2 linked regions of the Homo sapiens genome follow. The protein of the gene in region 2 interacts with the protein of the main gene of each other region in a pairwise test. Each region holds a gene or a part of one and is shown on either strand. Other genes may lie near its edges.

What was found. The genes of interacting proteins can lie anywhere in the genome.
Region 1: the proteins of CIZ1 (region 2) and UPF2 interact in a two-hybrid assay, tested with the Homo sapiens proteins (one large-scale study listed by BioGRID).

What each region holds. Positions count from the first base shown.
Region 1 is NC_000010.11:12,029,310-12,032,809, forward strand, and holds part of UPF2 (regulator of nonsense transcripts 2), read right to left. Parts: intron 216-3,500; coding exon 1-215. UniProt on the Homo sapiens protein: Involved in nonsense-mediated decay (NMD) of mRNAs containing premature stop codons by associating with the nuclear exon junction complex (EJC).
Region 2 is NC_000009.12:128,174,573-128,178,072, forward strand, and holds part of CIZ1 (cip1-interacting zinc finger protein), read right to left. Parts: intron 3,192-3,500; coding exon 2,994-3,191; intron 1,904-2,993; coding exon 1,779-1,903; intron 1-1,778. UniProt on the Homo sapiens protein: May regulate the subcellular localization of CIP/WAF1.

The sequences.
Region 1 (3,500 bases), on a different chromosome or scaffold from region 2:
TAAAATCATGGGACAAGGAGTCTCTCTGTTGTTCTGTAATAGTTTTTAGTTTCTTGACAAAAGCAGTATTTTTCTTCAAACTTGAGTCGAGGCGGCTGAAGAAGTTTTCCTCTGGTCGGCTGTCCGGAGCATTTTGGTTTTTGCTACGAAGTTCCTTTCTTAAATGATGTCGTTCCCAAGCTTCCTGATGAAGCTGAATGGATTCTTCTTTTTCTCTATATAAAAACAAACAAATAAATAAAATACTCTCTACATTTTGAAGCATTATACACAAATCCCCTAAGAGTAAAAAGCCAATGAAAAAAATTATCTAAGTATAACAATCTACAAGATTCAAAAGGCCTTTCACTACTTTTAAAGACATTTTACTGGCCAGGCATGGTGGCTCATGCCTGTAATCCCAGCACTTTGGGAGGCCAAAGCAGACAGATCACCTGAGGTCAGGAGTTCAAGGCCAGCGTGGCCAATATGGTGAAACCCCACCTCTACTAAAAATACAAAAATTAGCTGGGCGTGATGGCGCTCACCTGTAGTCCCAGCTATTCAGGAGGCTGAGGCACAACACTTAAACCCAAGAGGCAGAGGTTGCAATGAGCCAAGAACGTGACACTGCACTCTAGTCTGGGCGACAGAGCAAGACTCCGTCTCAAAAAAAAAAAAACAAAAAAAAAACACATAAAGACATTTTACTAACGACTAACGATAACAAGTATTATCTTAATGAGAAGCCCAGTACTGGAGGTCGATAACAAATGTCATAGAGCAGAGGATACTGACACTAGATTAAAATTAAAAATCATTCTGCCAACTGGCAAGCTAACTAGGTAAGACATATAATGCTACTGTGAAAAATATAGTATGTTTGGGAAGGATGTAAAATGTGAAACAAATAAAAGCAATGGGCAAAGAGAAAAAAAAACAATTATACACAAAGAATTATTTAAAGAATTAGCACTACAAGACCAGATGTGGTGGCTCCCAGCACTTTGGGAGGCGGGTGGATCACCTAAGGTCAGGGGTTCGAGACCAGCTTGGCCAACATGGTGAAACCCCGTCTCTACTAAAAATACAAAAATCAGCCAGTCGTGGTGGTGGGCACCTGTAATCTCAGCTACTTGGGAGGCTGAGGCAGGAGAATTGCTTAAACCTGGGAGTCGGAGACTGATGCTGCAGTAAGCCAAGATCTCCCAACTGCACTCCAACCTGGGCAACAGAGCGAGACTCTGCCTCAAAAAATAATAATAATAATAATAATAATTAGCACTATAAAAGAATGCATTAAAAATGTTTTGAGGCCTGGGCAGTGGCTCACGCCTGTAATCCCAGCACTTTGGGAGGCCGAGGCAGGCAGATCACGAGGTCAGGAGATCGACACCATCCTGACTAACATGGTGAAACGCCATCTCTACTAAAAATAACAAAAAATTAGCAGGGCATGGTTGCACGCGCCTGTAGTCCCAGCTACTCAGGAGGCTGAGGCAGCAGAATTGCTTGAACCCGGGAGGCGCAGGTTGCCGTGAGCCAAGATCATGCCACTGCACTCCAACCTGTGTGACAGAGCAAGACTCTGTCTCAAAAAAAAAGGCCAGGCACGGTGGCTCATGCCTGTAATCCCAGCACTTTGGGAGGCCGAGGCGGGTGGATCACGAGGTTAGGAGATCGAGACCATCTTGGCTAACACAGTGAAACCCCGTCTCTACTAAAAATACAAAAAATTAGCCGGGCGCAGTGGCAGGCACCTGTAATCCCAGCTACTCAGGAGGCTGAGGCAGGAGAATGGCATGAACCCGGGAGGCGGAGCTTGCAGTGAGCCGATATAGTGCCACTGCAGTCCGGCCTGGGCGAAAGAGCAAGACTCCATCTCAAAAAAAAAAAAAAAAACAAAACAGTTTTGCAATGTTAGATATTGTTTTTCCATCCTCAGCACATTAGCCAAACCTTTAACAAAGTACCTTGCTATGTTTGGGCTCTTAAAAATTCAAGTGATTTAGAAAATTTGGAAAGGAACCAGAAGACAACTATCAAATAAGAAACTTAATAAAAACCTAGTAGACTCAGTTTATACTGAAAAGAATAACCAAAAACAAATATACCTATTTTTCCACTAAAAAGACAGAACAAGTTTAAATTGCAGAAGTAATAAAATAGGCACGAGTGAGGGGCAACAATCTGATTTTGAAGTTTATTGAAGTTTTTGAGATAACAAAACACATAACTTAAATCTCCACTTTGTGAAGCTGAGGTGGGAAGAGCCCAGGAGTTAAGACCAGACTGGGCAACATAGTAAGACCCAATCTCTACAAAAAAATTTTAAAAATTAGCTGGACATGGTGGCACATGCCTGTAGTCCCAGTTACTTGGGAGGCTGAGACGGGGGGATCGCTTGAGCCCAGGAGGTTGAAGCTGCAGTGAGTCATGATCACACCATAGCTCTCCAGCCTGGGTGACAGAGTGAGCCCTGTCTCAAAAAGTTATACGCATATCTATAAATCTCTAAAAAAGTACATTTTCATCTTTCTGAGATAATCACCCCTGAGTTATAAGATAATTATTTGATTTTTCCATTAAAAGCTACAATATATTAACAGAAAGGTGGCCTCTATCACTGAGAACATGGACAGTTGAGTATCTCTTTGAAGTCTCCCAGCAACACACAAATACAAAATGAGCAGTGAAAGTACATTTTAAGAAAGTATGTACAAGGCTGGGTGCCGTGGCTCACGCCTGTAATCCCAGCACTTTGGGAGGCCAAAACGGGTGGATCACCTGAGGTCAGGAGTTCGAGATCAGCCTGACCAACATGGAGAAACACTGTCTCTACTAAAAATACAAAAATTAGCCGGGCATGGTGGCACATGCCTGTAATCCCAGCTACTCGGGAGGCTGAGGCAGGAGAATGGCTTGAACCTGGGAGGTGGAGGTTACGGTGAGCCGAGATCGCGCCATTGCATTCCAGCCTGGGCAACAAGAGTGAAACAACTCTGTCTCAAAAAAAAAAAAAAGAAAGAAAAGAAAAGAAAGTATGTACATACATTAAATAACTCAATTTTCAGCTGCATTGAAAACACTTATATATCGAAGTTTTTATGGGTAAATGCTATGATGCTCTACAATACTCCAGGGGGAAAAAGTGGGTAATTATTGATGCTAGGTAGATGGGGGACTAGTTCACTATACTATTCTATTTTTGCATATATCTGAAATTTTCCCAGGAGCTCAGGAGTTCAAGACCAGCCTGGGCAACACAGCAAAACCCCGTCTCTACAAAAAATACAAAAATTAGCCAAGTATGGTGGTATGCATCTGTAGTCCCAGCTACTCAAGAGGCAGAGGCGGGAGGATCACTTGAGCCCAGAAGGCAGAGATCGCAGTGAGCCAAGACCAGGCCACTGCACTCCAGCCTGGGTGACAGAGCAAGACCCTGTCTCAAAAAAAAAAAAAAAAGACTCTCTTAAGAATCATGGTTCTGAATATTCCAAAACTAGGCACTACTATAGCTT
Region 2 (3,500 bases):
CCCCACTGATGCAGGAAGACAGTATTGATGTCTTTGTGTTGGGGACCAAGGTGAGGGGGTCGTAGGTAGGGACTGGAGGGACTTTTTAAATTTTTGTTGTTGTTTTTGAGACAGAATCTCTCTGTCACCCAGGCTGAAGTGCAGTGGCGCGATCTCGGCTCACTGCAACCTCCGCCCCCAGGTTCAAGCAATTCTCCTGCCTCAGCCTCCCGAGTAGCTGGGATCACAGGCATGCACCACCATGCCCAGCTAATTTTGTATTTTTAGTACAGAGGGGGTTTCACCATGTTGGCCAGGCTGGTCTTGAACTCCTGACCTCAGGTGATCCGCCCATCTCAGCTTCCCAGAGTGCTAGGATTACAGGCCTGAGCCACTGCGCCTGACCATAATGTTCTTGATGGCCTCAGGGCCAAGTAGGATTCAAGAGAAGACTTCATGGAGAGATAACATTGGGAGAGGGTTTGATGAATCCCCGACACCTCAAGTTTGTTAACAGCTTGTGCTACGTATGTCCTTTTAGTTTTCTTCTGTGTCACAAGATCTATTCTTACACAAACAAGCTCATTCTGCAGATGCAATTTTGAATCCTGTTTTACTTTGACATTGCATCACCTTTCCACATTATTATAAATTCTCCAGTTATTCTATTTATTCATTGTTCCACGAGCTGGACGGGCTTTTTCATCATCTAACCAGTCCCCTACTTTCGAGTATTTTAGATCATTTCCCGTTAGATTTTTTCATCATGATACTAATAGCAAAGAACGTCTTGGTGAGTCATCATTCTCCTGTGTTTATGATTATTTCAACCAAGTAGAAAACCACTCAAGGACGCTCTTCTCAAAGGGAGAAACAGCTAACAGAGACACAGCCTGCCCTTGCAGAGCGAGAGCCCCCTGTCACACAAGGCAGGCAAGCGGAGGCCAACCAAGAGCCCTTCCTGTCCCCTCAGCCCCACCTGGAAGCTTCAAATTGTGACCTCTGTAAAATTAGGACAGAGCCCGTGACCACTGACTCAAGGGACCGTCCAGCCTATGAAAGTGTTTGATTTGCTCTCCGTAGGGTTTGTTTTGTTTCAATTCTGAACTAGCTGTTAACATTTTGAAATTGGGAGATTTCACATACAAACCTGGATTTCTGGATTCTTCTTAAAACTAAGAGATCCAGAGATGAGAAGCAGCTGTCTCCTGAGACAGAGCCTGTGTCCCCGCTGTGGCCCTAGCTAACATGGTCCTGCTGCTGAGATGACACATCCCAGCCCTTGCACACCTCTATGACTGCCCACAGAGTCCTGAAAGCACCTCTGGCTGCCTGCCAGGCCTTCCCACCCCAGTATAGTTCCAGACCCCAGGAGGGCTGAAGTTTCTGATTAAACAGGCTCCCATGACAATGAAAGGGGGAGACACAGGGAAACCCTAACCTCCAACCACAAAAGAACCTGATCCTCAGCCTTGTCACCCCACAGCGGGGTTAGCACACATGCCACAGGGGGCAAGAGTCTGTGCCACAACCTGTCCTCTCCCACAGGGATGGTCATACTGTTCCTGCCTAGAGGGAACCTTAAGAGAATGTCATGAATTCCTGTACTATATCCGTCACCAAGCCATGTTACAGGCAGGGAAAACTGAGGTTCAAGGTCACACAGTTAACAGTGTGAGGAGGCCTGGCTGGGGGTGCAGTGCTTAACCCAAAGGTAAACCCTGCAGATGGTAGATTCAGGCCCTGGCCGATGAGACTGCCTACCCCCCAACACAGAGCTTCCACGATCCCCCACTCACTCATCCTCTGTCTCCAGGACGTCCCGGGGCACGGGCAGCAGGGACAGGAGGCAGGCTTGGCTCATGTGCTGGATCTCCCCTAGCCGCTGCTGGTGCTGAGGCTCCGACATGTGGTCCTGGAACTCCTGCAGCAGGAGGGAAAGAGGGATGGGCCTGGGGCGTGAGCCCAGAACAGTGGGCAAGGCTGGGGCCTGGGGAGGCAGACCCCAGCCTCATCACTGTGCGCCCATTTCTCTCACCACACATTTCTCTCTTGTGTAGGCTAGAGCAGGCATGATAAACTAAGACACAGGGTACATGCCAGCCCGAGCTTCTGCCCCTCCCAGAGAATGTGTGAGTGCCTCAAAGACAAGGAGCGGCCTGATTAGCATCCAGGTCTCCAAGGCTGTGCCAGGTGAGGCACAGAGTAACACAGCTCACAGCACAAGAGTAGTAATACAAGTACAATGCGATCATGATTACTGCTACACTCACTTTGGGCCAGGCCTGCGCTCAGGACTCCAATGTCACATTGCTGAATCCCCAGAACCACCCAGTGAGGTGGATTCTAAACGTTTCTTTTTTTTGTTTCGTTTTGAGAGTCTCGCTCTGTTACCCAGGCTGGAGCACAGTGGCATGATCTTGGCTCACTGCAACCTCTGCCTCCTGGGTTCAAGCAATTCTTCTGCCTCAGCCTCCTGAGTAGCTGGGATTACAGAAGCATGCCAACACATATTTTTAGTAGAGACGGGGTTTCACCATGTTGTTCAGGCTGGTCTCAAACTCCTGACCTTGTGATCCACCCACCTCAGCCTCCCAAAGTGCTGGGATTACAGGCGTGAGCCACTGTGCCCGACCCTAAACTTTCCTTTGTCTGATGCAAGAGGAAACAGGCACAGGGTGGAATTCGCTTTCCAAGGTCTCCCAGCTACTCAGAGCCGATATGAACCAGGTCTGACTGACTCTAAAAACCTGCTTGAGCCCAAGAGGTAGAGGCTGCAGTGAGCTGAGATCATGCCACTGCACTCCAACCTGGGAGGCAGAGTAAGACCCTGTCTCAAAACAAAAAACAAAACCACCAAAACCTGCCTTCTTGGCAGGTCAGGAAATGTTTCCCAAGCAAATGCATGGCTGCTTGGGGCAGGGCCCATTGCAGCCTGAGGCATTCTTGGGAGGGCAGGCTGGGCATTCCACGCAGGCCCCACCCCTCCCCACCCTTATCTCCTGTATCAGTACCTGCTGGCTGGAGCAGCTGGCCTTGCAGATGTAGCAGAAGAACTGGAGGGCCTGCTTAGAGGGAGTGCTGGTAGCCGCAGGGGTGGAGGAGACGGAGTCACTGGGGCGGGGGACAGGTGTCAGGGGTACAGTGCTAAAGGCCCGGCTGTCACTGCTCTGCAGAATGGTGACCTTCAGGGAGCCCCCGGCGCCCCATACCTGCATGGGGAGTAGGAACTGAACTTCCATCAACTGTGTACTTATAGTGGGCCAGCCCAGCATTCAACATCTGCCAACGTTGTCTCATCAGATCTTCCTGATGATAGGGAAACTGAGGCTCTGAGCTGTTAGCTGACTACCCCAGCTTGCACAGCTAGAAAGCACTGCAGTCAGGATGCGAACCCAGGTCGGCCTAAAGTACCACTCATCCCACCCCTTGTATGACAGATGGGGAAACAGACTCAGGAGGGAAAGGGTTTGCCCACAGTTACGCAGAGCTGGGACCCAAATCCCACAGAGAGGCTTCCA